Linked DNA regions of Homo sapiens: region 1 is linked to region 2. A link means that fine-mapping ties the variant in region 2 to the expression of a gene that starts in the linked region. Tissue or cell type: whole blood. Region 2 holds a variant in brackets; the other region holds the start of a gene. All regions are shown on one strand. Distances are between the middles of the regions.

Evidence for each region. PIP is the estimated chance that this variant, and not a neighbour inherited with it, causes the effect.
Region 1: it holds the start of SESN2, and the variant in region 2 is fine-mapped to the expression of SESN2 in whole blood (TOPMed, PIP 0.97).

The regions. Positions count from the first base shown.
Region 1 is chr1:28,256,512-28,261,659 of GRCh38, forward strand. SESN2 (sestrin 2) reads left to right here and starts at 3,007. Exons shown (of 10, transcript NM_031459.5): 1 at 3,007-3,426. The coding sequence starts at 3,337. RefSeq lists enhancers at 2,578-2,757, 2,750-3,598 and silencers at 2,868-3,077, 3,858-3,917.
Region 2 is chr1:28,318,159-28,323,306 of GRCh38, forward strand. No RefSeq gene overlaps it. Among named protein-coding and RNA genes, the nearest start is that of MED18, 8.3 kb to the right of the region's middle. The variant T/A (reference allele first, on the strand shown) is at 2,512.

The DNA of each region.
Region 1 (5,148 bases), 62 kb before region 2:
AGCTTTTTGGAGGAGGTGTCATTTAAAGTCTTGCTTCAGGCCACAAACAGGAATGAAGGCATTGAATGATGGATACTATTTCAATGGGTAGAGATTTGCAAGAAGAGTACTGAAAGAAAGATTTGAAGGCCAAACAAGAAACATGGATGTTGCAGGTGGTAAGAATGGGAGGGTAAATTAGGTGCATCTTGGCAAACCTTGAATGTTAAGATAGGAGTTTGATTTTTTTTTTTTTTTTTTTTGAGACAGGGTTTCGCTCTGACACCCAGATCGTGCAGTGGCACGATCTCAGCTCACTGCAACCTCTGCCTCCCGGGTTCAAGCGATTCTCCTGCCTCAGCTTTTCGAGTAGTTGGGACTACAGGCGTGCACCACCACGCTTGGCTAATTTTTGTATATTTAGTAGAGATGGGGTTTCACGATGTTGGCCAGGATGATCTTGAACTCCTGACCTCAGGTGATCTGCCTGCCTTTGCCTCCCAAAGTGCTGGGATCACAGGCGTGAGCCACCATGCCCACCCAAGGAGTTTGATCTTAATTCTGTAGCTGATGAAATACCAGTGAAGCCTTTTGATCTGGACTTTGACATTACATAGTAAATTTTTTTTTTTTTTTGAGACAGAATCTCACTCTGTCACCCAGGCTAGAGTGCAGTGGCACGATCTCGGCTCACTGCAAGCTCTGCCTCCTGGGTTCACGCCATTCTCCTGCCTCAGCCTCCCAAGTAGCTGGGACTACAGGCACCCGCCACCACGCCTGGCTAATTTTTTGTATTTTTAGTAGAGACGGGGTTTCACCATGTTAGCCAGGATGGTCTTGATCTGACCTCGTGATCCGCCCACCTCGGCCTCCCAAAGTGCTGGGATTACAGGCGTGAGCCACCACGCCTGGCCACATAGTAAATTTTTTAAATGAAAGCTGAAGCTGACACAGGGTAGTTTAGAGAGGAAGTTGATGCAAAGGAAGATTCCGTGACCAAGGGCATATGATTGTCAGGACATTTTGCTAGGTGACATAGAGCAGGAGATGGATGTCAAGATGTAGACCCTGCCAGCCAGGCGCGGTGGCTCATGCCTATAATGCCAGCACTTTGGGAGGCTGAGGCGGGCAGAGCACAAGGTCAGGAGTTCGAGACCAGCCTGATCAACATGGTGAAACCCTGTCTCCACTAAAAATACAAAAATTAGCCGGGTGTGGTGGCACTTGCCTGTAATCCCAGCTACTCAGGAGGCTGAGGCAGGAGAATTGCTTGAACCTGGGAGGCAGAGGTTGCAGTGAGCCAAGATCGGGCCACTGCACTCCAGCCTGGGAGACAGAGTGCGACTCTGTTTAAAAAAAAAAAAAAAAAAAAAAAAAAGATGTTGACCCTGCCCTCAAGGAGTTTACAATTAAAAAGATCAGATAAGCCAGACTCAGTGGTGCACACCTGTAACCCCAGTGATTGATTTGGGGGGCTGAGGAGGGAATATCGCTTGAGCCCAGGAATTTGAAGCTGCAGCGTGCTATGATCATGCCACTGTACTCCAGTCTGGGTGACAGAGCTAGACCCCATCTCTAAAAAACAATACTAATAAAAAGAAAAAAGGGTCAGATAAAACATGTACATAGAAAATTACAATACAAGGCAGAATGTGGCTGGACATGGTGGCTCATGCCTATAATCCTAGCACTTTGGGAGGCTGAGGTGAGAGAATCGCTTGAGCTCAGGAGTTTGAGACCAGCCTGGGCAACATATTGAGACCCTGTCTCTATTTACTAAAAAACAAAAAACAAAAACAAAAAAACAGAAAACAAAAAAACAAAAAACAAAAAAAACTAGGTAGAATGTGATACATGTGAAAAGAGATCCAGCTCAAGTGCCTTGGGAGCTCAGGGGAGGGTGAGATTAATCTCTTTTTCCCAAGAATCTGGAGGCAGGAAACCAAGTCGGTTTCATCTTTGGAATTGTAAGCTTAGACTTAGAAGTCTCAGAGGGGGACTTGGGGGTCTTATCCACCCTCACCCCTGGCAGGATTCCCTGTCTAGAATAAACAATAACTTTAAAATGGAAACAAAAAAAGGAGCTCTGAAGGAAAACTGTGAAGGAAGAGGCTCCGTTTGAAATGAATAGAAAATGAATTTAGCTTGGAGGTGCTGAGGTGTTGGTAGAGGCAACTTTCTGGCAAGAGGCGAGTTGAAGGCCAGGAAGTGAATGAGATCAGGGAGAGTGTCTGGAGGGAAGAGGGGCAAAAACAAACTGGGGAAGCACCCACGTTTTAGGAAGTGGGTGGTGAAAGAGGAGTCAGAGAAGGCCAGAGGGAGAGGTGAGCAAAGATCCAGCAGAACACCTTGTTACAAAGTTTCGAGGAGGGTGGGAGGGGTGGAAGCCAGGACGGGTAGCAGAAGGAAGAAAACTTCCAGCAATAGGGATTGAGGTTCCACACGAAGTTACCAATGACATTTCAAGGAATGAAGGCTTTTCCTGAGGCTCCACAAATAAGGTGAATTCCCTGTGTCTCGCATCTTTGGAGCTTCCCCGAGGCCAGGGGGAGCAGGGTTGTGCCCTCTGACCTCTAAATATCTGGGGTTCAGTTCTATAATTAGCAGCACCGGATAGGACGCGAGCCAAACCTCTCTTAACCCTAGCCAGTCCCTCCAGGAACTGAAAAGATGAAGAATTCATTTAGGAGATTTCACACTCGGCTGTTTGGCCTAGCCCAGTGAAGTCCCTTTTCATCACGCAACCCTAATGACTCTTAGGGCTGTCACTGCCGTCTGGTGTTGCCAGGGATCTGACTAAACCGTCTTGCAAAAGTTTGCAGCATTCACCCGAGGCGGACTACAACTCCCAGAATTCCGGGCGCTCCCCGGTGCTGATTGGCGGAGCCCGTGACTCCAGGGGGCGGAGTTTCCCCCGCCTCCCCGGGGAAACAGACCTCTGATTGGCTGGACCGCCGGGCTTTTGTGTCCCCGCCCTCCCCCGGGGACCGCAGCGGGCTGAACTGCTGGTGTCAGAGCCCGGCGAGCGCTGGCAGTTCCGCGGCGGGGATGCTGAGGAGCGCTGGGTCCGGGAGCAGCCCTGGCCCCTGCGGACTTCCGAGGCCGTGAAAACCCCTGCGCTGCGGCCCTTCCCAGGCCCCCGAGGCCGTTCGCCGTTCCCGAAGCCCGACTGGGGGAAGAGTCCAGCACCAAAGCGGCCGTTCTCGGATTCCGGAGCGTTCTGGAGCCCCGAGAGACGCCCCGGGGTTCTAGAAGCTCCCCGGCGGCGCCCAGTCCCGGCTTCATTCGGGCGTCCCTCCGAAACCCACTCGGGTGCACGGGTCGTCGGCGAGCCGCGACCGGGTCCTGGCGCGCACCATGATCGTGGCGGACTCCGAGTGCCGCGCAGAGCTCAAGGACTACCTGCGGTTCGCCCCGGGCGGCGTCGGCGACTCGGGCCCCGGAGAGGTAAGCGGCGGCCGCGCGACGCCCCTCTTCCCTGGAACCCCGAACCGCGTCTGAGCCTCAGGCTGTCCGGAGCTGAGTCGGTGTGTCCTGGGCTCGGGGAGGGAAAGCCGAGCGCGTAACCCGGGACCCGGGTTGCATCAACTGGCAGCCGCGGCCCTCGGCACCCCTCCCCCACTCTGTCTCCCCTCTCCCTCCTTCTCCCCCTCCCTCTCCCCCTCCTCCCTCCCTCTCCCCCTCTCCCTCACCGCCCCACCCCAGGGCCGCGGATCCTTCCTCGGCTCCCTCGGACTCCTGGCCAATGAGGGAGAAGCCTTCTGGAGGCTCTCCGAGCTTTGGGCTCCTGAGCGTCTTCAAGTCCAGGCAAATCCCGGCCGGAGCGGCCAGACCACTCCTCCTCCCCGCCCCCTTCCGCGGAGTCCCTTCCTCTTCGCGGGGGCCGGCGGGCAGAGGACCCTTCCTGGGGTGCCTCCCGGCTCCTGTCCCCCAGCGCGGGGCGTAGGCACCTGGGACTGGCCAGTGAAAGTCGACCTCATCCTATGTCCACCGCACTCCTGCTTTGGAGGGAGAGCGCAGGGGCTCTGGGGGCTTGGCGGGCCGCCCGGTACGCGGCGGCGGCAGCCAAAGCTGGGGGGAGAGGGGACAACCCTGGTCGCGGCTTCCGAAGCCAAGCGCGGGTTAGGCTGCGCCCTGCTAAGTAAGTGGTCTGAAGGCCCAGAAGTTTGTTTTCCAGAAATTCCTCCCCCACCCTCCCTTCGCGCCGCTCCCCTCCACCCCCCCGCATTCGCATCCCGGCATAGCCCGCAGGGGCTTTGCAGGGAGACCGGGAATTAGGCTGGACCTAACCAGACTGACAGTTCGCACTCCCCCACCACTACCAGCAGCAGCGATAATGGACATCTTATCATTTATTATGCACCTACTAGATACCAGGCTCTGAGTTTTTTTCGCCTTTAACCTAAGTCCTCAGGACTAAACCAGCAATACAAGCTACGCTATAGCCCCATTTTACAGGAAGAACATTGAGGCCCACGATGGGCTCAGAAAGAGGCTTTCTTCATTAACCCCACTGAATATCTTGTTCTTTGGCCTTATGATTTCGGAGATTGCACGGCACTAGGAGCTTCTAGTTGCTTTAGTTTACAGGCCTAGAGTGTGGTGGAAGTTGTATTCTGGACCTGGGATTTGGTGGAGTGCTATGACCCCAGGAAAATCCCTGCTTTTCTCTTAGTAACGTGGTTTCTGGGGATCCTACCTCCGTCGGTGTATAGTTTGTGCCCTGGTTTTTGTTAGCTTGCTTACCCTTCTCTGCCGTGATTTAGGAGCGCCATGTGGAGGAATGGCTCTTCTCCTGCAGCTTCTCAGCTGTGTGACTTCTTTGGAAAGATGGAAATAATGTTACTATTGAGAACACCTGAACACTAGAGAGCAAGAGTGCTGGGTTCATGTCCCAGCCCTCCTGCTAACTTGCAGTGTGTGGCTTAGCCAGTAATCACTTCTCTGATCTGTGGTTTCTTCCCATGGGGATTTTACAGTATCTCTAAGGGATTGTTGGGAGAATTAACTCAGAATACAAGCAAAAGCTGAAGCACTGTGACTGGAACATAGTAACTGCGTGATACTTGCTTGCTATTATCAGAACGTGGCCATGGCACGCACAGCTTTCTCCAGAGTGTCTCACAAGGGGGTGCCTGAGCCTGTTCCTGAGATCAGACACTGTACACC
Region 2 (5,148 bases):
TCTAGGCCTGCCACAGTGGCTTATGCCTGTAATCCTAACACTTTGGGAGGACAAGGCGCGAGGATCGCTTGAGCTTGTGAGTTTGAGACCAGCCTGGGCAACATGGTGAAACCCCATCTCTACCAAAAATAGAAAAAATTAGCCAGGCATGGTGGTGGGTGCCTGTGTCCCCAGCTACTTGGTATTTTGTTTTGTTTTTGTTTTTTGTTTTTTTTGGGTTTTTTTTTTAGATGGATTCTCACTCTGTCACCCAGGCTGGAGTACAGTGGCGTGATCTCAGCTCACTGCAACCTCTGCCTCCCAGGTTTGAACGATTCTCCTGCCTCAACCTCCCGAGTAGCTGGGATTACAGGCACGCACCACCATGCCCAGCTAATTTTTGTACTTTTAGTAGAAACAGGGTTTCACCGTGTTGGCCAGGCTGATCTCGAACACCTGACCTCAGGTGATCTACCCACCTCGGCCTCCCAAAGTGCTGGGATTACAGGCGTGTGAGCCACCTCGCCCAGCCATTCACAGCTACTTGGGAGTCTTCAGTGGCAGGATCACTTGAGCCCGGAAGGTGGAGGTTGCAGTGCCCAGTGCACTCCAGCCTGGGTGACAGAGTGAGATCCCATTTCAAAATAAATAATTAATAAAATAAAATACATTTGAATTTCTTACAATGAGCACATAATGCTCTTGTAACCAGAAAAAAAACTATAAATGTTTTTCATTATTTTAATCAATTTTATTGAGATACATTTACATTTACATACAATTAAAATGCATCTGGGTAGGCCGGGCGCAGTGGCTCACACCTGTAATTCCAGCACTTTGGGAGGCCGAAGCAGGTGGACCACCTGAGGTCAGGAGTTCAAGACCAGCCTAGGCAAAATGGCAAAACCCTGTCTCTACTAAAAATACAAAAATTAGCTGTGCATGGTGGTGGGTACCTGTAATCCCAGCTACTTGGGAGGCTGAAGCAGGAGAATCGCTTCAACCCGGGAAGCGGAGGTTGCAGTGAGCCGAGATCATGCCATTGCACTCCAGCCTGGGTGACAAGAGCAAAACTCCATCTCAAAACAAATAAATAAAATAAAATAAAATGTATCTATTTAAATGTACATCTTGATGAGTGTTGACAAATATACACACTTGAGCACCTGACATCACAATCAAAATATAAATATTTCCATTTTTCCAGAAAGGTCCCTTATGTCTCCTTGCAATGAGTCCTCCCTACTTCCTGCCCTAGACAAGCACGATTTTATTTCTCTCACTGTAGATTAGTTTTATCTCTTCTAGAATATCACATAGATGGAATCATAAATTACATATTCTTTTGTGTCTGACTTCTTTCACTTAGAATATTGTTATTATTATTTTAGAGAAAGGGTCTTGCTCCATCGCCCAGGCTGGAGTGCAGTGGCACAATCATAGCGCACTGCAGCCTCAAACTCCTGGGCTCAAGGGATCCTCCTGCTTCAGCCTCCAGAATGTCTGAGACTATGGTTGCATGCCACCACGCTCAGTTTAGATTAATCTATCTTCTTATGTACATCAGTAGTTTTTTTCTATTGCTGAGTAGTATTCCATTGTAGAAATAAATCACAATTTGTTTATCCACTTGTGTGTGGACATTTTGTTTGTTTCAAGTTTTTTTTTTTTTTTTTTCTTTTTTTTTTTTGAGATGGAGTCTCTCTCTGTCACCCAGGCTGGAGTGCAGTGGCACCATCTCGGCTCACTGCAACCTCTGCCTCCTGGGTTCAGCAATTCTCCTGCCTCAGCGTCCCGAGCAGCTGGGACTACAGGCATGTGCCATCACACCCAGCTAATTTTTGTATTTTTAGTAGAGACAGGGTTTCACCATATTGGTCAGGCTGGTCTTGAACTCCTGACCTCGTGATCCACCCGCCTTGGCCTCCCAGAGTGCTGGGATTACAGCCATGAGCCACTGCGCAGGCTTTTTTTTTTTTTTTTTGAGAGAGTTTCTCTCTTATTGTCCAGGCAGGAGTGCAATGGCGCGATTTCAGCTCACTGCAACCTCCACCTCCTGGGTTCAAGCGATTCTCCTGCCTCAGCCTCCTGAGTATCTGGGATTACAGGCATGCACCACCACGCCCTGCTAATTTTGTATTTTTAGGAGAGACGGGGTTTCTCCATGTTGGTCAGGCTGGTCTTGAACTCCCGACCTCAAGTGATCGGCCCGCCTCGGCCTCCCAAATTGCTGGGATTACAGACATGAGCCACCGCGCCTGGCCATTTTTTTTTCATTTAAAAGGAAAAAAAGGTTATTTTCTTTTACTCTTTTTAAGTAACCCACACTCATCAAAAATTTGGAAGATAGGCTGGGCGTGGTGGCTCACTCCCAGTTACTTGGGAGGTTGAGGCGAGAGGATTGCTCGAGCCTGGGAGATTGATGCTTCAGTGAGCTATGATCTTGCCACTGCACTCCAGCCTGGGTGACAGAGTGAGACATTGTCTCGAAAAAAAAAAAAAAAAAAAAAGGCAGGGGAATCGCTTGAACCC[T/A]GGAAGTGGAGGTTACAGTGAGCTGAGATTGCGCCACTGCACTCCATCCTGGGTGACACAGTGAGACTCCATCTCAAAAAAAAAATAAAAGGAAAACAGAGACAAGTGGAGATAAAATAATCTCTGGTCCCATTAAACAAAGTTAAACAAAGGCAATTATTGTTAGTATTAGAGTGCTATGTTTTCTTCTCCTGTGTAAAGATGTTTTAAGGACTCTATATAATTAAAATCACACTGTACATTTGTAACTGGCTTGAGTAGTTAATATTATATCATAAATATTTTCCACCTTCTTTCTTTTGTAACCATTTTTAATATTATTTAATATTTTATCACTAGAATGTGGACTCTCTCAGGGCAGGGGTTTAGGTTGTCCCAGTTATTCTTTATATTCCCAAAGTTCAGCATGGTGCCTCTCCTACCGCAGGCACATAGTAAGTGCTGACTGTATTGTGTGCCACAATGTGCTTGCTATGCCCATATGGAGAATATGCCAACTCTCCTTACAATGTTCTTTTCACTAATTCTCTTTTTTTTTTTTTTTTTTGAGACAGTCTGGCTCTGTCACCCAGGCTGGAGTGCAGTGGAAGCATCTCAGCTCACTATAGCCTTGACCTCCTGGGCTCAAATGACACTCCCATCTCAGCCTCCCAAGTAGCTGGAATTACAGGCGAGGGCTACCATGTCTGGCTAATTTTTAATTTTTTGTAGAGATGGGGTCTCCCTACGTTGCCTAGGCTGGTCTTGAACTACTGGGCTCAAGTGATCCACCTGCCTCGGTCTCCCAAAGTGCTGGAATTACAGGTATGATCCACCATGTCCAGGACCCATCTTAAGTCCTAAGCACTAGTGTGTTAACCTCTGCCCTTCTGCTTCTCCATGAAGTCTTTTTGGGCTTTCTCCTCTCCTCTGGGTTGTACAAAGAGTCTCCTCCAGAAAACATTTGAGTTGATGGCATAAATAATGGCATAAAACCATTTGACCCAAGGAAGGGGGTAATTGTGATGAGATCTTAGGGGACCAGAAACAAACTCTTTTACTTCCACATAGATTATACAGCAGACTTGCAATTCTGGCAGCTGTGAGATGGAGAGAATACCACCTGCTTCTGAGAGCTAGTATGAGGAGGAAATGAATTATACAGATTCAGCTGAGCATGGTGGCTCACACCTGTAATCCCAGCACTTTGGGAGGCTGAGGCAGGTGGATCACCTGAGGTCTGGAGTTCGAGACCAGCCTGGCCAATTTGGTGAAACCCCGTCTCTACTACAAATACAAAAATTAGCTGAGTGTGGTGGTGCACGCTCGTAATCCCAGCTATTTGGGAGGCGGAGGCAGGAGAATCACTTGAACCTGGTGGGTGGAGGTTGCAGTGAGCCGAGATCATGCCACTGCACATCCACCTGGGTGACAGAGTAAGACTCCATCTCAAAAAAAAAAAAAAAAAATACAGATTCACAGAAAGTGCTTACCACAGAGCCTGGCACCCAGTAATCACACACTCAAGGGGAGCTGTCCAGGAAATTTGAGACCCAGTGGGTTAATTATCGGTTAATTATCTTCAGACTAAAACCAACACTGATTTCCCCAGACAGCCCGGGAGGGGAGAAACCCAAACAGACAGTTACAGTTCAGCTAAAACAGAGCTAATCTTTAATCTTTTATGGATACATGTAATACATTAACTATTATAGCTTATCCCCTCAAGGCACCTCAACACCTGGTCAACCAGAGGCTAGAGTTGGGTTGGCTGGGCTAAGAGGAAGGGAGCAAGTAAATAGGCCAATTACCCTTCTGCAACAGACTTTCTTAGGGCCCCGCCTTGAGATTAAGAGAATTAAATGGCTAATGCTGCCTGTCATTCAGCCAGTGGGGTGGGGAGGTGAATTTCTTGAGTCAGCACCCAATGAAGAACACTAGGCACAAAATTATATGAGGTGTTTTACCTGTCTCTCAGCAAACTAAACTCCTTAAGAATGGTGTCATTTCTTATTTGTCATTGGGTGTTTGCTGATGGTCATTACTATTAATAATAATGCTGTAGTTGTCATAATAGGAAAAAAATCCAAAGGCATAGAATTACTAAGGCTAAGTATCTATGAAATCATAAAGTTCGACTACTGCATTTTCTCAACTCTAAGATGCATTTTGTGTCTGGGTTTATCGGGCTTCAATTTATAACAGATATATATATATATATATATACACACACACACACATAGAGAGAGAGTGTTTATCAATCGACTGAAACTCTGTTATTAAATCAATACTATGACTTAGAGTGGACAGTGTCTAGGAATCAAGGAAATATGATAATTCAATCTCTCCCACTCGGAACAAGAATTCTTTCTTTTCTTTTTTTTTGAGATAGAGTCTCGCTCTGTTGCCCAGGCTGGAGTGCAGTGGCACCACCTTGGCTCACTGCAACCTCTGCCTCCCAGGTTCAAGCGATTCTCCTCCCTCAGCATCCTGAATAGCTCGCATTACAGGTATGTGCCACCATGCCCAGCTAATTTTTCTGTTTTTAGTAGAGATGGGGTTTCGCCATGTTGGCCAGGCTGGTCTTGAACTCCTGACCTCAGGTGACCTGCCCACCTAGGCCTCCCAAAGTGCTGTGATTACAGGCATGAGCTACCA